6 linked regions of the Homo sapiens genome follow. The protein of the gene in region 6 purifies or fractionates together with the protein of the main gene of each other region. This does not show direct contact. Each region holds a gene or a part of one and is shown on either strand. Other genes may lie near its edges. The genes, in order: LIN28B, NOP14, PIP5K1A, PARN, RBM19 and DHX37.

The links.
Region 1: the proteins of DHX37 (region 6) and LIN28B purify together in Homo sapiens (co-immunoprecipitation; one large-scale study listed by IntAct). This does not show direct contact.
Region 2: the proteins of DHX37 (region 6) and NOP14 purify together in Homo sapiens (affinity purification with mass spectrometry; one large-scale study listed by BioGRID and IntAct). This does not show direct contact.
Region 3: the proteins of DHX37 (region 6) and PIP5K1A purify together in Homo sapiens (co-immunoprecipitation; one large-scale study listed by IntAct). This does not show direct contact.
Region 4: the proteins of DHX37 (region 6) and PARN purify together in Homo sapiens (affinity purification with mass spectrometry; one large-scale study listed by BioGRID and IntAct). This does not show direct contact.
Region 5: the proteins of DHX37 (region 6) and RBM19 fractionate together in Homo sapiens (co-fractionation; one large-scale study listed by BioGRID). This does not show direct contact.

What each region holds. Positions count from the first base shown.
Region 1 is NC_000006.12:105,081,470-105,083,832, forward strand, and holds the end of LIN28B (protein lin-28 homolog B), read left to right. Parts: 3' UTR 1-1,863; downstream 1,864-2,363. UniProt on the Homo sapiens protein: Suppressor of microRNA (miRNA) biogenesis, including that of let-7 and possibly of miR107, miR-143 and miR-200c.
Region 2 is NC_000004.12:2,946,407-2,949,906, reverse strand, and holds part of NOP14 (nucleolar protein 14), read left to right. Parts: intron 1-1,498; coding exon 1,499-1,629; intron 1,630-2,295; coding exon 2,296-2,381; intron 2,382-2,786; exon of another isoform or gene 2,787-3,034; intron 3,035-3,359; coding exon 3,360-3,495; intron 3,496-3,500. UniProt on the Homo sapiens protein: Involved in nucleolar processing of pre-18S ribosomal RNA. Has a role in the nuclear export of 40S pre-ribosomal subunit to the cytoplasm.
Region 3 is NC_000001.11:151,205,052-151,208,551, forward strand, and holds part of PIP5K1A (phosphatidylinositol 4-phosphate 5-kinase type-1 alpha), read left to right. Parts: exon of another isoform or gene 1-1,278; intron 1,279-3,500. UniProt on the Homo sapiens protein: Catalyzes the phosphorylation of phosphatidylinositol 4-phosphate (PtdIns(4)P/PI4P) to form phosphatidylinositol 4,5-bisphosphate (PtdIns(4,5)P2/PIP2), a lipid second messenger that regulates several cellular processes such as signal transduction, vesicle trafficking, actin cytoskeleton dynamics, cell adhesion, and cell motility.
Region 4 is NC_000016.10:14,581,761-14,585,260, reverse strand, and holds part of PARN (poly(A)-specific ribonuclease PARN), read left to right. Parts: intron 1-469; coding exon 470-512; intron 513-838; coding exon 839-914; intron 915-2,969; coding exon 2,970-3,080; intron 3,081-3,500. UniProt on the Homo sapiens protein: 3'-exoribonuclease that has a preference for poly(A) tails of mRNAs, thereby efficiently degrading poly(A) tails.
Region 5 is NC_000012.12:113,945,826-113,949,325, reverse strand, and holds part of RBM19 (probable RNA-binding protein 19), read left to right. Parts: intron 1-289; coding exon 290-493; intron 494-1,861; coding exon 1,862-1,992; intron 1,993-2,850; coding exon 2,851-2,972; intron 2,973-3,401; coding exon 3,402-3,498; intron 3,499-3,500. UniProt on the Homo sapiens protein: Plays a role in embryo pre-implantation development.
Region 6 is NC_000012.12:124,948,729-124,951,131, reverse strand, and holds part of DHX37 (probable ATP-dependent RNA helicase DHX37), read left to right. Parts: intron 1-327; coding exon 328-442; coding exon of another isoform or gene 443-479; intron 480-581; coding exon 582-719; intron 720-888; coding exon 889-983; intron 984-1,072; coding exon 1,073-1,146; intron 1,147-2,403. UniProt on the Homo sapiens protein: ATP-binding RNA helicase that plays a role in maturation of the small ribosomal subunit in ribosome biogenesis. Required for the release of the U3 snoRNP from pre-ribosomal particles.

The sequences.
Region 1 (2,363 bases), on a different chromosome or scaffold from region 6:
TATGCTGTTCCAGCCTTACAGGTGGCTGATAATTCTCTGGTACAGAACCTTTTTATCTGTATTATAAATAGCAATTCACAACTGCATGTTTCTGACAAACACTTGTGAATAATGAAGCATCTCGTTTTAGTTAGCAAAGTCTCCAAACATTTCCTTAAAATAATCATGTATTTAGTTTAAAGAATTATGGGCACTGTTCAACTTAAGCAAAACAGAACACGGAAGCAGTCTTAGAAGCACCACTTTGCCCAGAGGTGGAGGTTGGAAGGGGTAGCAGGGAGAGGGGTTGGTGTATGCAGGTATTCATGCTAGGCAAAGAGTTTAAAAGACGCCAATGTCCTTCATTTACTGTCTGTGCTGCCCTGAAGCCAAGCGTATTGCAGCATTATAGCCCCAGGCACATAACTAACTAGCACTGGCTTGCCAAGGAATGAACATGCAATGCCATTACTAGCTATTGAGGGAAAAGGGTCTGTGTGAAGCATCACTTTGCAGGGATTACTAATGGTGGGGCAGCAGGTCTGTGAATTAAGTTATCTCTTGACCTCACCCTCATGTCAACACAAATGTAATTCCTAAACAAGATGCATTGCCAGTCTCTTAGCCCTGTAAGCTGATCTTTTGCTACATGGCAGACTATAATGAAAACATTTTTATACTTGGGTTTCTAGTCTTCACTAGAAGGCCTTGGATGTATTTTTGCAGTTGAAAGATTTAGAAAGATTTTTACCTGCTTATAACTTGGAAGTTTAGAGTGCAATGTAAGAAAAAAGATCAAGAAATGTCATGTTATTAGCATCAGTCCACCTCCAATATTGCCGATACTTTTTTTATTCTGGCTCAGTTTTATTTTGCACCAGTGCGGCCCCAAGTTACTGCTGGTTGTATTTAGTTTGTGAATAGGAGCCCATAAGTGTTAATAGACTTTGTAACATTCACTATAAGATGAATTATACAGGACATGGGAAATCTCATTAAGTCTTAAAGTTAATTTAAATTAATTTATCTGTTTTCTCTAAGAAATGTTTATCATAAAATATATATGTGTATTTCCCCTTTGGTTATAAAATTTGGGAAAGTATGTACAAGTGCAGCTGCACTGACTTTAATTTTCTAGATGTCTTAATGAGATTTATTTGTTTTAGAGAAGAACATCTTGTTAAAAGCATCAAACTCTGTCTTACATAGCTGTCAACAGCCTCTTTAAGATGTGGTGGTTGTATGATCTGTGTCTTAATTGTTCAGTTAGAGTGAGAAGTTGACCTATGATTCATTTTTAAATTTTATATTTGGAACAAAGCTGCAAGTTATGGTAAAGTACTGTACTGTGAGAAGTATTATGATATTTAATGCATCTGTGGCTTAACACTTGTGAGAGTTACCAGCTTGAAAATGATGGTGTTGACTACCTCTTGAATCACATCTATCAACCACTGGCACCTACCACCAAGCTGGCTTCAATTAGTATGTGTTGCTTTTTGGTATTAACAACTAACCGTACTAGAGACCAAAGTGAACCCTGATTTTTATATGTCTTTAATAATGGTGTTTTATCTAGTGTTTTTAAATTATCCTGTGTAGTATTTAGATTACCTCATTGTCCATTTTGACTCATGTTGTTTACAAGTGAAAATAAAAACACTTGAACTGTATGTTTTTAAAAGACAAAAAAGGGGTAGATGTTTGGAATGCGTTTCACTCGCATGCAGTCATCTGGAGGGACTGAAGCACTGTTTGCCTTTCTGTACACTCTGGGTTTTATATTCTCATTTCATGCCTAATGTCTTATTCTGTCAATTATGGATATGTTGAGGTTTAAAAAAATTACTTGATTAAAAATAAAACATATAACGTTGGCATTTATGATGGGTTTTGGAGATTTTTTATGATGTGTGTTCTTACTAAGTTAAGTGAAAGGATAAAAGGCCATTTAGGCAGTGTTTTACATCAGTTGGAGCATAAGTTAAGTGGTATTAACATATCCTCAGTGGTGAGTATTAACATGGAACTTACTCCAACAATACAGATGCTGAATAAATGTAGTCTAAGTGAAGGAAGAAGGAAAGGTGGGAGCTGCCATCACTCAGAATTGTCCAGCAGGGATTGTGCAAGCTTGTGAATAAAGACACATACTTCATGTAGTCAGAAGAGTGGTCTGAAGCAAAATATTCAAAGCCTATTGAAGAAATCATTTTAGAATTTTTCTACAAGTTTTTTCTAATAAAGAATTTGAAAAGGGCAAATTTTATCAGTACCAAATATCTAAAATACGAATGTAGATTTATCAAACCATGAATGCAGTATTGATGTACTGTAACAAACGATTTGGTAAAACTATTGAGTTCTTTAAATTGGCCAGTTCC
Region 2 (3,500 bases), on a different chromosome or scaffold from region 6:
TTCTGGGATAACCTTTATGACCTGGCCATAGCTGTGTGTGTTCGTCTCCCTCCCAGGGGTTGCATTTGTGGAATGGGGACCAAGGATGCCCTTGGGAGTGCCTGGACACACCCCTGTGTCTGCTGATCCAGGTCTTAGAGTGAGTGGTCATCTTAGTTTGTGACTGTGGTTCTGTAGGCCGGCCCCCGATGGGCCAGATGCGCCTCTCTCTAGTGGTACCTTCACCTCCCTTTTAGTATATGGTCAGCCTCTTGTGGTGGACCAGAGGGGCAGGGCTGGGGAGGTGGGTGAGCATCTGCGAGAAGGCTTCCATGTTCCCACCTGGGCCTCCTGTTTGGCCACGTAACATTTTAGATGGAATATACAGTGTTGTTTTGTCTAGTATGTGGAGAAAAATTGTCCAGGCCAGGTGCGTGGCTGATGCCTATAATCCCAACACTTTGGGAGGCCAAGGTGGGTGGGTCACTTGAGCCTTGGAGTTTGAGACCAGCCTGGGCAACATTGCGAAACCTCGTCTCTACCAAAAATATAAAAAATAAGCCTGGTGCAATAGCTTGTGCCTGTGTTCCTAGCTGGTCAGGAGGCTGAGGTGGGAGGATCACTTGAGCCTGGGAGGCGGAGGTTGCAGTGAGCCGAGATTACACCACTGCACTCTAGCCTGGGTGACAGAGCAAGACCCTGTCTCAAAACAAAGAAAAGAAAAATGGTCAGGTTCTAGTAAGCAATGCCGAATTATTCTGTGCCTGCCAGACGCTTCCAGAGGAGAAGCTAGTGGTGAAGCTGGCCTCTGTGAAGTGCCCTCTGGTGGCAAGAGTCTCCTGAGCTGACACTGCTTGGCTCACAGTGGCTCCTTCCAGGTCCTTCTGAAGCAGTCTGGGCACTAAACCCAGCACCCTGCCACCAAGATGCTCTGAAACTGTGGGTGTTTTAGCAAATTCCTAATCAAGGAAAGGTGGGAGGGCATTTCCTTATTAGCCTGTTCCCAGGTGCGTGATCGCACCTGACAGCCCAGGTCAGGATGGCTGAGACCCCTCCAGGTGTACCAGGGCAAACGCTGGTGGGTTTGTTGTGATCGTGAAGTAGAATAGTTATATAAAATTACCTCTCTGTCAGCAGACATGTAAGTAATTCTCATTTTAAATGTGAAATGTGGGCCAGGTGCGGTGGCTCATGCCTGTAATCCCAGCACTTTGGGAGGCCTAGGCAGGCGGATCACCTGAGGTCAGGAGCTCAAGACCAGCCTGGCCAACACGGTGAAGCCCTGTCTCTACTGAAAATACAAAAATTAGCCGGGCATGGTGGCGAGTGCCTGTAATCCCAGCTACTCAGCAGGCTGGGGCAGGAGAATCTCTTGAACCCAGGAGGCGGAAGTTTCAGTGAGCTGAGATTGCACCACTGCACTCCAGCCTGGGCAACAGAGCGAGACTCCATCTCAAAAATAAATATATATACATATATATAAATGTTAAATGTGCAGTATGTTTTGTGTTTTTGATAGCCCCTGAATCCTATGAGGAACTGAGATCTCTGTTGTTAGGAAGATCGATGGAAGAGCAGCTTTTGGTGGTGGAGAGAATTCAGAAGTGCAACCACCCGAGTCTCGCAGAAGGAAACAAAGCAAAATTAGAAGTACGTGGATTGAGTGTGTGTGGAGCGCTGGGAGTGTCAGCATAGCCCCGTATATGAATGCCAGAATTGTGTGAAGTTGTGCAACGGCCATGTGTGCCTCAGGCCAGATGGGGCCAGCCCGTCACATGGTTACCTATGATGATGGCTGGGAGTACTTGGTATGGCACCGGCAGAGGCCTCCCTTGGCTTTGGCCCCTCTCTAGGCCTCGTGCCAGACCCAGCCAGAGGCAGGCATGGGGACCTTCACCTTCATCTCACAGGGGAGGACACTAGGGTTCACATAGCCAGCGTGTGGCAGAGCCAGACTTTGCTGTGGCAGATAGGTGGCTGTGATCGTGCCTCTTTCAGTGAATGGTGGATATTGCCTGTGAGGAGGACGCCGTGCTGCCCGTGTTCCTCGTCGTGCTTTCCTAGTGGTGTGTTGTCAGCTGTTCTGTAGAAGGATGCGCCTTGCCCTTAGCTTTCTCCCCCCTACACCTTCTAGTGCTTAGCAAGTTCTAGCAGTGTATTTGCTTACATTTTAGAAGGCTGCTCGTGTCTGTCACCCTGGGCTCCCCTGCCCCACCTGGTTGTCACCAGAATGTACGTGATCCAGAAGCTGTGTGCCTGTGGCTTTGTTCTTGGTGCTGAGCACTGAGCTTTATTTCCCAATTCATGTTCCTGCAGAAACTGTTTGGCTTTCTTTTGGAATACGTTGGCGATTTGGCTACAGATGACCCACCAGACCTCACAGTCATTGATAAGTTGGTTGTGTAAGTAAAAATGGTGTGTCATCTGGGATGTGGGGTTAAGCAGAACAATTTTTCTCCCATTTAGAGTCATAAAAATACATTCCAGAGTTACTAAGGTAGGTGGAATGATGGTGTCAGCATGCCAAGTGGGCAGGTGGTCACCCAGGGCTTGTGAGCCTCACAGCGCAAGCCGGCTTCTCACACGTGCCGCTCCAGCCACTGTAGAGCTGGGACTGACTTTTAACCACAAACAAGTTGATTTTGAAACAAGTGAACCCCTTTAGATTTGTGGCTGGGATGGGGTGGCTCATTGTAAGTTTCAAGCTCTGGGTGACTGAGCGGTATTTGGAAAGCACGGTAGACACCCCGCCCCTCACCCTTCAGTGAAACCCAGTTGGGTGGCTTTGCATGCCAGGGAGTGTGTACCTCTTGTCTGCATGGGGACCGCCAGGGCGAGCTCCTGCCCTCGTTGCCCTCTAAGGCTGTGTGACCCACTCAGTGGCTCCTGGCCCCCAGGGCTGGTGGCTGGAAGAATGCCAGAGGGGCAGAGTCCTCAGTTGAGAGGCGTGTGTTGGCTTCGGATCCATGAGAGTGCACACCAGCTTCCTGCCCTGTGCCGCGCGGAGCTCTCCACGTCATCTTCTGCATGCATGGAGGCACTATCAAAGAAGTACCTGTCGTGAGGAATAAATGAGTTAATATGGAAAGTGCCTTGGAGCTGTCAGCTGCAGCTGCCACACAGAGTGGTGCCCCCAACAACGTCTGTACCACAAATCGAGCTGTTTCTCCCACCACCTCCAGTCCATAATGTTATGGCCGAGTTTTTAGGAAATGGCAGAAGTGAGTGTAGACTCTTAAGAATGCTGTTAGAAAAAGCGGATTCATCCAGTTCTTACTTGCTCAGTCAACAGGTGACTGCATAGGAAAGTGGCTTGCAGGGCTTTTCTGTGTTTCTTATCTAAAGTCATTCTCTCCTGACTTTACATTTCTGCTTAACAGGCACTTATATCATCTTTGCCAGATGTTTCCTGAATCTGCAAGTGACGCTATCAAATTTGTTCTCCGAGATGCGATGCATGAGATGGAAGAAATGATTGAGACCAAAGGCCGGGCGGCATTGCCAGGGTTGGATGTGGTAAG
Region 3 (3,500 bases), on a different chromosome or scaffold from region 6:
TAAAGTGGAAACTATAGCCTGTGAAGTGAACAACAGAGATAATACCAGGCCAGCTAGCAAACTGGGGAGAGGGAAGGTGGTAATTTTATCCTTTAAATTGTTCTCTCCTAGAATGTTATTTATTATTTTTTTGAGACAGAGTCTTGCTCTGTCGCCCAGGCTACAGACCAGTGTAGTGCAGTGGTGCGATCTTGGCTCACTGCAGCCCTTGCCTCCCAGGTTCAAGCGATTCTCCTGCCTCAGCCTCCTAGGTCACTAGGATCACAGGCGTGCGCCACCACGCCCAGATAATTTTTGTATTTTTAGTAGAGGCGGGGTTTCCCCATGTTGGCCAGGCTGGCCTTGAACTCCTGGCCTCAAGCGATCCTCCTGCCTTGGCTTCCCAAAGTTCTGAGATTACAGGCGTGAGCTACTGCCCGGCCTCTCTCCTAGAATTTTGGAGCATTCTTACTTGACGTAAAGAAGGGAACAAGAGCCGGGCATGGTGACTCACGCCTGTAATGCCAGCACTTTGGGAGGCCAAGGCAGGTGGATCACCTGAGGTCAGGAGTTCCAGACCAGCCTGGCGAAACCCTGTCTCTACAAAAAATACAAAAATTAGTCAGACGTGGTGGCGTGCTCGTGTAATCCCAGCTGCTAGGGAGGCTGAGTCAAGAGAATCACTTGAACCCAGGAGGCGGAGGTTGCAGTGAGCTTAGAGTGCACTACTGCACTCCAGCCAGGGCAACAGAGCAAGACTCCGTCTCAAAAAAAAGAAAAGGGAACAAGAAAACTTATCAGTTTATTTTTCTTTCTTCTTTTTACTGGGTTTCCTTGATCAAGGACAAAAGTGTACTTCAAGAATATACTCTTTCCTGATGGCCAGGTAGAGAGGGAATCTTTGTTTTTCTGTGCTCCATACCCAGCCCAGAGAGACTGAATGAAACACCGATGGTGTTTCCTAGAGGAAACCCTAAGAAGCCCGTTTCCCCTATTGCACCTCACTTCTCTGCCCTTTCCCATCTAAACAGAGAATTTAATTTCGACATATGTTTATCCTGTTTTGTTCATATCTCCTACAAGCTTTTATTCTTTTACTGTTTTCTATTTGAAGTGAACTTTTTTCCCTCAACCCCTCCATCTTTTTAAACTGTCTCCATTTTTCTTTATTCTCCTGTGAAATTTCAGTCTGTTTATTTGTAATGGTTGTATTCAGTATGTATTAATTTACAAATATCTAATTCCTGGAAAATCTCTCTTGTTGGAATCTGAGGAAGACATTGGCAAAAAGAGAGGAAGGTAGGTCTGTTGTAGGGAGTTCAGCATATTCTTATTATTTACCTTGTATACTTAACTGAGCAATATGGAAGTAATCCAGAATAAGCTGTCCAAAAAGATTAGAGATATTGGTTGGGGGTGGGCAAAGGGGAGGTGAGCAAAGGAAGTTGGCGAGAGGGAATGAGAAGAGGGTTTTTTGTTCTTGTTTGTTTGTTTTTAGGATATTTAATTAGAGTATATTAATACTTTTTTTGTTTTGTTTTGTTTTGTTTTTTGAGGCGGAGTTTCACTCTTTTGCCCAGGCTGGAGTGCAGTGGTGGGATCTCAGCTCTCTGCAACCTCCACCTCCCGGGTTGAAGCGATTCACCAGCCTCAGCCTCCCAAGAAGCTGGGACTACAGGCACGTGCCACCACATCCGGCTAATTTTTGTACTTTCAGTAGAGACAGGGTTTCACCATGCTGGCCAGGCTGGTCTCTAACCCCTGACCTCAGGTGATCTGCCCACCTCAGCCTCCCAAAGTGCTGGGATTATAGGCGTGAGCCACCTTCCCGGCTATTTTTGTATTTTTAGTAGAGACGGGGTTTCGCCATGTTCGCCAGGCTGGTCTCGAACTTCTGACCTCAGGCGACCCTCACTGCAACCTTCGCCTGCTGGGTTCAAGCGATTCTCCTGTCTTAGCCTCCCTAGTAGCTGGGATTACAGGTACACACCAACATGCCTAGCTAATTTTTGTATTTTTAGTAGAGATGAGGTTTCACCATGTTGGCCAGGCTGATCTTGAACTCCTGACCTCAAGTGATCTGCCCGCCTTGGCCTCCCAAAGTGCTGGGATTACAGGCGTGAGCCACCGCGCCTGGTCTGAAATATGTTCATTTTAATCCAGCAGAATTCATTGCTGTTTCAAGATAGAACCAGATTTGGAAATAAAATTGGAAGGTGGCTATCTGCCAAAAATTTCAAGTGCCTCTTGGCCATGGGTAGCTTATTCAGGAAACCCAAGTCTTTTAAGGAAGGACTTGGATTTTTTTCTTAATTTCAAAGAACGTTTTTGTGCCAAGGGATACATATTTGAGGTCTGAGAACCATGAAACTTGTTTGTAGGATTAGAAGCAAAAGTTGACTAGAGGGAAATGTAGAGTTATTTTAATTTAACTCCCTCATTTTCCAAATTAGGAAACTGAGGTAAAGATGTTGCATAAAGGCTGTATGTTACCAAGATTAATCTTTTTTTTTTTTTTTGAGATGGAGTCTCGCTCTGTCCCTCAGGCTGGAGTGCAGTGGCGTGATCTCGGCTCACTGTGACCTCTGTCTTCCAGGTTCAAGTGATTCTGCTTCCTCAGCCTCCCAAGTAGCTGGGATTACAGGCGCACGCCACCACGCCTGGCTAATTTTTGTATTTTTAGCAGAGTCAGGGTTTCACCATGCTGGCCAGGCTGGTCTTGAACTCCTGACCTCGTGATCTGCCTGCATCGGCCTCCCAAAGTGCTGGGATGATTACGGGCATGAGGCACCACACCTGGCCATCAAGATTAATCTTAATAAATATGTTGCTCCTTCTTTTTTTTTTTTTTGAGACAGAGTTTCGCTCTTGCTGCCCAGTCTGGAGTGCAGTGGTGCGATCTTGGCTCACTGCATCCTCCTCCTCCTGAGTTCAAGTGATTCCCCTGCTTCCCTAGTAGCTGGGATTACAGGCACATGCCACCACGCCTGGCTAATTTTTGTATTTTTAGTAGAAATGGGGTTTCTCCATGTTGGGTCAGGCTGTTCTCGAACTCCTAACTTCAGCTGATCCACCTGCCTTGGCCTCCCAAAGTGCTGGGATTACAGGTGTGAGCCACCGGGCCCAGCTGGCTCATTCTTTGATATACTGCTTTTAATTGGCTATTAGCTGAGGTGACCCCAGGACTGGTAGATCAAATTGCTTTCAAGCTTTTGTTTCTAGGGACATCCTTGCACTTCTGACTGTTTCCTAGAAGAGCGTTAGGAAAAATTTACACCAGCTAAGAAACAAAATTTAGCTTTTCTCTGAAATGTGGCTTGGTTTTCTTTTCTTTTTTTTTTTTTTTTGGAGATGGAGTCTCACTCTGTCGCCTAGGCTGGAGTGCAGTGGTGCAATCTTGGGTCACTGCAAGCTCCACTTCCCGCTTTCAAGCGATTCCCCTGCCTCAGCCTCCTGAGTATCTGGGATTACAGGCGCACACCACCACGCCCAGCTAATTTTTGTATTTTTAGTAGAGACGG
Region 4 (3,500 bases), on a different chromosome or scaffold from region 6:
CTGATTGTAGATTTTGGCCCTGCAGAAGAATTTATAGTTTACAAACCTGAGGAGTAGGAGTAGATGGTAGCAGTTTGGGAATGGTAGACCGGCAGCAGTATTTGAACCACGTAAAACCATGTGAGAGTATTTGACTCACCCTTGAGATTGATGGAGCCCAGGCTCTCTGAGGATCCAGGTGAATCTAGAACTTGTACTCCAAGTGTGGACTCTCCTGCAGTTGCTCAATGAAGTCGCTGATGATGGGACTGAGTACCTACTCCAACGTAGCAGGGATGCTGGTGCTGGGTTCAAAATGGCCAATGTGTTTAATTACTTTGTCTGTGTTTAAGTATTTTCTGTATTAAACATTTTATGTTTTAATTATGTTTTTTATGTATGAAGTATTTTAAGTAGCTTACATATTTGAGTAAAAGACATTTTAAACATTGATATACATTTTGTTTACCTTGTTAAAAATTCTTTTTAGACTCTTGGATACTAAATTGATGGCCAGCACACAACCTTTTAAGGTATTATTCATTTGCTACTTTATAAAGCGACTGCATATTACTGAGTGAAATGAATGCCAGAACAATATAGCCTTCTGGCAAAAGGTTTGGAGGTATTTAATGCATCTGTAAAGATCTTTATTCATTTGGTTATACTTTGTATATTATAAAAATTAAACTAGCTGCTTCTCTTTCACATTGAAAAAAACGAAGACTTCTGTGTTTCTTTAAAGAACACAAGGAGACAGTACTAGATGCTGTCTTTTTTTTGGGGGGGTCAGTGAATCTCTTTAATATATTGTTCTGAGATGATGAAATCTCATAATTCTTTGCTTCGTGGTTTGCAGGATATCATTAACAACACATCCCTTGCGGAATTGGAAAAGCGGTTAAAAGAGACACCTTTCAACCCTCCTAAAGTTGGTAAGAATATTAAACCGGAAACCCTCCAAACTCTTTGTAATAATTATTGATGTATATTGTAGAAGAAAAGCAGAATGGCTCTGGAGACCGTATTGTTCATTTATAGATTTTGGCTGAATTCACTTGCACGTACCGTGTGTTGAATTATTGTTTTTTGAATAAAGATGGTCTTTTAATTCTACATATATTTTATGTTAATGGAGTTGGGTAGCCATTCATTGAGAATTTTAGCAATTAAAGCTTCAAGGCTTCTATTTTCTAATAATATGGAATTCTCCTAAAACTTGATGTGCCCTTTTATTCTTTCATACATTATTGAAGCAGAGACAAAGAGCTAGTGATTAATCACCAGGGGTAGAGTAAAAAATATATTTTCCATCTCAGAAAAGCCCGAGAACTGGATTTACAGGTGAGATTAAGGCAAGTCCCCACCCTGCCTCCTTTTCAGCTGGTTTAGAGAGTAGAAACAGCAGCACTGAGGAAAACCAGAAGTAGGGAGATGAGATGGAGGTGTTTTGCCACCTCGGGCCACCACCAAGGTATGTGGAGAGCCTACCAGGTGCTACTTCCTTGGTCCCTGTTAACCTGATTGTGCTGCTGATACGGTGATTAGCGAGCCATTAGTTGTAGCCTGAAAACTTCTAAAGACATGGATAATAGGACTAATGGTTTAGAAATTGATAATGCAAAGTATTAAAGCAGCCAAGATTACAGTTATTTGCCCCTTTCTGGGTAATAGTCCAAGAAAGGAATTAAGAAAAGTGGTGGTGGGGCCATTGGGGGAGAAAACGTGGACCTTTTCTATAACAATATAATGGAAATAATTGATTTTGGAAAGAATGTGTCTCAGTTGATGATGGAGTGGAAGATATTACTTAGGTGGCTACCATGTTAAAAGGCTTTTTTTTAAAGGCATCAAGTCTAATATTTAATATGGAGTTAAAGAATTCTTGCTTAAAGAGCATTGTATTGACATAAAAACAGTTACAGCCTTTTCATTGTTAATTTCCATTTATGCTTTTGATTCTGTGTTATAGTAACCTTCCTGACATTCATTTCCAGAATGGTTCTAGGATATAATTATTTATGAGTTATAGTTTTATGTTATTATTTCCATATAAAATAGTGGTATCTGGTAGAGAATTCAGTCTAAAGCAGGTCATTCCTCTTATAGTTTATCTGGTCACATCTGTATTTATCAATGTCACAAAAGAACCATATTGTATATAAAGCGGTCTTTGCTGTAAAGTGGTTCCATGATCCAAGGCCAGCATTATAGCAAGTTCGATTTATTTTTGGAGTTGGTTGTGCTGTCACCTTTCGATCTCTAAGCTTGGGAACATAGTAGAGGACAGTAGTGAGTTGGAGCTGTTGATAGTGAATTGCAGTCTTCTCTTTTTTTGGGGGAGGGTTGCCTCAGGTATTGATAGATAACAGTTTTTGAGCACTTACTATGTACCAAGCACTAGGTAAGAGTTTAACTTATATTATCTTATCTGATCCTAACAATAACCTTTTGAAGAAGGTTTGATTATCATCTCTGTTTTACAAAACTGGAACCTTAGGGATGAAGTGACTTGCCCAAGGTCATACCGCAAATAAGTGGTGGAGCAGAGATTCGAACTCAGTGTGACTCCAGAGCCCATGCTCTTAATCTTTACTCTGGATCATCTATTGTGGCCTGATGTGACCATCTTGTATAAGGGAAGAATATCCTTTTCATGGCCTTAGAAAGCAAGCAGAAGAGGAATCATTGTCCTAGAGTGAGTTATGGATGATCATAAATAGCACCCACCAGTGTGGGACGAGAAAGCCCACGGCTGAGTCCTTTGTAATCTAACTGAGGCATTTCTGTATCCTAGACCAAAGCCCTCCTTTTCAGTGACTCTGTTATCTTGTATTTTAAGGTCTTATATAGAGAGAATTAAGGAATAGATAGCTTTTTTCTGCCTATTTAGGGTATTTCTCTAGCATATGCTAATGCAATTTTGATTGGTAGGGCAATGTGCTTACTAGTCTTTGTTTTGAGGAAAACTTTTTCCTTTTTTTTCTTAGAAAGTGCCGAAGGTTTTCCAAGTTATGACACAGCCTCTGAACAACTCCACGAGGCAGGCTACGATGCCTACATCACAGGGCTGTGCTTCATCTCCATGGCCAATTACCTAGGTACGCATTACATGTCTTTCAGTCAAACACGCAGTGATCTAGGGTGGATCTTACCTGTCTCCTGGCTTAGGCTGCTGTAATAAATTACTGTCGAGTGTGGGGCTTAAACAACAGACATTTATTTCTCATGTTCAGGAGGCTGGAAAGTCCAAGACCCAGTTGCCAGCAGACCTAGTATCTGGTGAGAGCCCACTTCCTGGTTTGCAGATGGCTGCCTTCTCCTGTCCTTACGTGGTGGAGAGCAGAGAGAGCAGAAGCTGTGCCGCCTCTTTTTTAAGAGTCAGGGTCTCACTCTGTCACCCAGGCTGGAAGTACAGTGGTTCAATCATAGCTTACTGCAACGCTGAACTCCTGGGCTCAGCCTCCCAAGTAGCTGGGACTACTGGTGTGCATCACTGTGCCTGGCTAACTTTTTAATTT
Region 5 (3,500 bases), about 11 Mb from region 6:
GAATACAGCCCGGAGTTTAGAGAATGCATCACCGTGGTCTGGGATAACTCAGGCAGGCTCCCTCCAGGGCTGAAGCTGAACTGGCAGGGTGAGTGAGATTTGGGTTCAGGCCTGGTGTTGGCTTGGCTTATGCTGCCGCCTCAGGTGACAGGGCAGGTGTTGGGTGCTGTCATCTGCCACCTTGATTGTGTTTTTTGGAAGGCAGCAGAGAAGAGTTTGGAGTCACCAGCAAGGAGTTGCTGGCAAGTTCTAGGCCTCCCCCTGGAGCCCTGACTCCTCTTCATTGCAGGTGGGCGCTACATCGAGGTGTTCAGGGAAAAGAACGTCCCCACCACCAAGGGTGCACCAAAGAATACCACCAAATCCTGGCAAGGCCGGATACTCGGGGAGAACGAAGAGGAGGAGGACCTGGCCGAATCCGGAAGGCTCTTTGTACGGAACCTGCCCTACACCAGCACCGAGGAGGATCTGGAGAAGCTCTTCTCCAAATATGGTAGGGGTGTGGCCTCCGGGCCGTGGATAGCCCAGCGGCTATGGGAGCCGGGCTCTCACTCTGACGTCCTGGGTTCAAGTCCCAGTGTGCACACGACTCCACATCTCTTGCCTCAGTTTTCTCATCTGTAAAATGGGACCAAGTACCCCTGAGCTGCTGTGAGGATTCAGTGACATGATGAATGCAGGGATTCGCAGGGCAGGAAGTAAAAGGTATTAATAGCATCACTGGCATCCTTTGCTGTCTGAACTCTCTAACTTCTCCAAATTCAGAATTGAAGCAATTCGGATGACTTTTTTGAGATACTCCCTTGCTGTCCAAAGTCATGCCACTCGGTATTGGAATTGAGTAACTGTACAGGTTTCACCTGATGAATATACCTACACGGCGTTCCTCCGTATCTGAACTCTTAATTATGTAAAGTCTTCTTATCCAAGCTGAGCACCAAATAGATTTGATAGTGTCAAGGTTAGTGTTGTTGTTGCTGTTATTTCTCAGGCCATGGGCTTGAGGGCCTGTAGTCCAGCTTGGTCACAACAGGCTGTGTTTGTTTGTGGAGTTACCATTGTTGAAGGGCAGGAAGGGAGGGTTCAGGATGAGGGGAGGTCTTGATACCTTTGAGATCCCCGCAGTGTCTCCCCATGTCTATTCAGAGGCCAGCTGTAGGTTGTGGAGGATTGGAGATGTAGGTTGAACACCTGATGTGGGCCCCGTTGTCAGGGTAAGGATGCCCTGAGTGGAGCATGCCATCAGGAAAATTGACCTGACCTCCAAGCCTGGGGCCTGCCCCAGTGGAACTGTGTGTTCCATTCACCAGTCTGCTCACCATATCCTTCACACAGGCTGGCATCCCGGCTTACACCTCATGGGTGGGCTGAGGGGGAGAAGCATTTGTCGATATATTGCAAATGTCCATTTGGGAAGGAAAGACCCAGAGAGGGGACGCGGTCACACCCTGGCATTCAGAGTTGAAACCAATGCAGAAAGGGTGTGCTTTAATTTGAGCATGATGCTAATATCATCATGGAAGACACTTCTTTGGCACTAACTCTAGCAGGCACTGTTTAGTGCACTATGCACGCATGAACGCATTTAGCCCATGAGCTAGGTACTGTTGTGCTGTTTTACAGATGAAAAGACTGAGGCATGGGGAGGCTTAGTGATTTGCTCAAGGCAAGCTTCATGTGTAATAGGTGGTGGTGCTGGGCTCCAGCCCAGGTATTGTTGCTGTTAGGATAGACACACGTAGGGGACTGGGAAATGACACCCATGACCTGTGAGGTTGGCTCACAGCTGGTGCTCACCACATTCTTCCCTGGGGCCAAGTGGCTGCGGCCTACCAGAGACCGACACTTCTCCTGTCCTCAGGTCCCCTGTCTGAGCTCCACTACCCCATCGACAGCCTGACCAAGAAACCCAAGGGTTTTGCATTCATCACCTTCATGTTCCCTGAGCACGCTGTGAAGGCCTACTCGGAGGTGGACGGGCAGGTATTCCAGGTGAGGCCCCGTCCTGGGCTGGCCAGGAGGCTGTGGGGCTCACATGGTCGGGAAAGGCTGGTGTGTGTGTGTGTGTATGTGTGTGGACACGGGCGTCCACTTTGTGGGCCTAAGAAAATGTGCAATGGCATGCTAAGTCACTGCCTCACTCAAGCCACTGGAGAGTAAGAAGTCGTGTGAGGGCACGGTCTGATCTGTTCTGGTCACTGATCTGTGGCACCTACACCTCTGTCTGGCACTTAGCAGGCACTGAAAAAATACTCCTTGAATGGATGAATTTGCTCTCCATCTCTATAGATACCACCTTAGAAGAGGAGTAAGAAGAAAAGAATTTTGACAGGGACCTATTAAAATGGCCACAGTGGAATAAAAGAAACTTCTCTTTTCCCAGTGTTACCAAGTAATATACTTAGCATACATCCTCAAGCCCCAGGCTGCCTCATCATCACCCTTTTTCCTTTTCTCATTCATTCATTGATTTATTCATGATTTCTTGATCCCCTTGTTGCCATCAGGCCAGACCTGGCCCCACCGGCATGGACCTCACATTCTTACTCACTGGTGCAGGGACAGGATGCGATGCAGGCTTGAGAGGCGGGGAGAGGGCTGCGGGTGCGGGGTTATACACTGATCGAAGTTTTGTGTGTGTAGCTGTGTCAGGTGGCCCCCTCACGACATCAGGATCCTGTGTCAGGTGGGAAGAGAGTGGCCACGTTCTACCTGACCTCCCTCCCACCCTCTGGTCAGGGTTTCAGTGCTGGGTCCAGCTTACTCGTGGCAGAAGCCAACATCCTTCGGCAGGAAGCAGGGCTTACAGGCAAGGCTTCTGTTTACTCCCTTCCCGTCATTCCCATCCAGGGCAGGATGCTCCACGTGTTACCATCTACCATCAAGAAGGAAGCCAGCGAGGATGCCAGTGCCCTGGGATCGTCGTCCTACAAGAAGAAGAAGGAGGCCCAGGACAAAGCCAACAGTGCCAGGTCCTCAGTGCCCCTGAAACCACTGAGCTCCAACCCCAACCCTCTGCCACCCTCACCCTGCCCTTTCTAAGCCACCTGGGTCTTCTGACTCCTGATGGGTTTAGTTCATACCTTACCGAGCTTCAGTTTTCTCATCTGTAAAATGGGAGAATAATAGTAGTGCCTTACTTTTATGGTGCTGTAAGGTTTAAATGAGTGAATGTATGTGAAGTTCTTAGTCCCTGACACAGATGAAGCACTGTTAGGGATGGTTCCTGTCATCATCCGTCTTGTTGTCTTCAGGCCCTGTATACGTAGCCCATGATAGGGAAATTGGGGGCATGTAGATAGGCAGGCCTAGGAGCCCATTTCTTACAGGATTCGTGTCTGAGAACGAGTTCCCCTCATCCAGCTGCGGTCTGATCTCCCTGTTCTGCCTCTGCCTCTTAGCTCTCACAACTGGAACACACTATTCATGGGGCCGAATGCCGTGGCCGATGCCATCGCACAGAAGTACAACGCCACCAAGAGTCAAGTGTTTGACCACGT
Region 6 (2,403 bases):
TTTTTTGTATTTTTAGTAGAAATGGGGTTTCACCAACATGGTGAAACCAGCCAGGCTGGTCTCGAACTCTTGACCTCAGATGATCCACCCTCCTCGGCCTCCCAGAGTGTTGGGATTACAGGCGTGAGCCATTGCACCCGGCACTTCCTTCCTTTTCACGGCTGGATCAGACTCCAGCGTGTGGATGGGCCGCATTTCCCGGCAGATGGAGCACTCTCCCACTTTTGCGGCTGGAGTGGATAATCAGATTCTTCTCCTGGGTTGAAAGTATGCGGAGCCCCTGGGCATGGGTTCTTCCCTGACCACATCACTCTCCATTCTCTGCAGACCCCTCTCCTCGACGACCCTGTCTTCATCCACCCCAGCTCCGTCCTTTTCAAAGAGCTCCCCGAGTTTGTGGTCTACCAGGAAATCGTGGAGACCACTAAGATGTACATGAAAGGTGCCGAGGCCTGCGGACAGCCCCTTGTCCCCCGATGGTGACGCTAATGGGGGTGTGGCTGGGACCCTGGGGCAGAGGCATGGCAGCCCCTCCCACGGAGGGTGCCGCTGTAACCCCAGCTTCCTCCCCCGGCCCCCAGGCGTCTCTAGCGTGGAGGTCCAGTGGATCCCGGCCCTGCTGCCCTCTTACTGCCAGTTTGACAAGCCCCTGGAGGAACCAGCCCCTACATACTGCCCCGAGCGGGGGCGGGTGCTGTGTCACCGGGCCAGCGTGTTCTGTGAGTTGGGGCAGTGTCCTGGGCAACCTGAGCCTCCTGCAGCCGTGGGCTTCTCGGACACACGGTCCTGTCCCCTGCCCCCGGACGTGTGTGTCTCGGGTGGGGCAGGGATGGGACTCGGGAGGGCAGCTGCAGGAGGGTCCCTGTCTCACTGGCTCCCACCTTCTAGATCGCGTGGGCTGGCCGCTCCCCGCCATCGAGGTGGATTTTCCAGAGGGGATTGACCGCTACAAGCACTTTGCCCGGTTCCTGCTGGAAGGGCAGGTAGGTGGCACAGCGGCTCCAGACCCTCATCTCGGGTACCGTGGGCAGCAGCAGCCCGGGCCTCACCCCTTCCTGTGGTCTCTCATCAGGTCTTCCGCAAGCTGGCCTCATACCGGAGCTGTCTGCTGTCCAGCCCCGGCACCATGCTGAAGACGTGGGCCAGGTACTGCCTTCGGTGGGAGCCTCGCAGTGGGCAGGAGGGGTCCGAGGCCTGAATGACCTCCCCGGGGCTGCCAGGACAAAGCACCACACACAGGGAGGCTTAAAACATCAGAAGTCTGTGCTCAGGTCTGAAGGCTCTGCAGAGCCACGGTCTGTGCAGCGGCTCTCGGGGAGGGTCCGTCTTGCCTCTGTCGGCCTCCTGGGCTTGTGGCCACATCACTCCAGTCTCTGCCTCCATCTTCACGTGGCCATCTCTCTGTGTGTCTTTAGTCTCCCTCCCTGTGTTCTCCTTATAAGGACACCAGTCATTGTATTCAGGGCCCACCCTACTCCAGGATGACCTCTCCTTAACTCATGACATTTGCAGTGACCCTCTTTCCATATAAGGTCACACGCTGATGTTCTGGGTGGACATGAATATGGGATAGGGGAGACACTGGGCAGCTCCCACAGAGCCGCCAGGTGTCAGTGGGAGGCATCCTGCCCTCCTGGCCCTGGGGACTTCCTCCCAGCTAAGCAGACCCCTGCCCCATCCCGCCCACCACCTCTGCTTCAGGGCTCACCCTTGCCCTCTGCCTCCTGCTTCTGCTCTCCTCCTGCCTGTGGTCCAGACCCACAGACACCTCCCCCTTCCTGGGGCTGGTGGGGCCTATGGTGCAGGGGCTTGGGGCACTGGAGGCAGGCCTGAAGGTGCAGGCAGGTGCCAGGGACTCGAGATGGGGCGTGGGGCACAGCACCCGCTGCTGGGCTGTCAGGAGCCGTGTCAGTCACTCAGCTCACGTTTTCCAGTGTGGCCCTGTCCCAGGCATGTTCTCGGGGCTGGGATACAGACACGATCTCTGTCCCACAGCAGCGTTGCTCGGCCCCAGAGGGACAGAGCAGGACATGAGTGAGGCCTCGGTGGGCAGGGGGTGGAGTGCGACTGGGCTGGTCGGGGAGAGCCTCACTGGGCAGATTCAAAGGAGCCAGGGCTGCAGCTGGGCACAAATCTGGAGGAAGGTTCTAGATGAGACAAGTTGCATGCACAGAGCAGCCTTGGTGGGCAAGGAATGTGGACCAGAGGCAGCCAGGGTGGATGGGAGGAGGTGGGATCTAGAGCCTTCTGTCCCGGGATGATTAGGGGAAGGGGACCCTTTGCCTTCTCTTTTATTTTATTATTATTATTTATTTTTTAGAAGGCCTGTCTAGAGAATTATGTTTTTTTGCTTTTGAGTTTTGTTTGTTTGCTTGTTTGTTTGAGACAGAGTTTTGTTCTTGT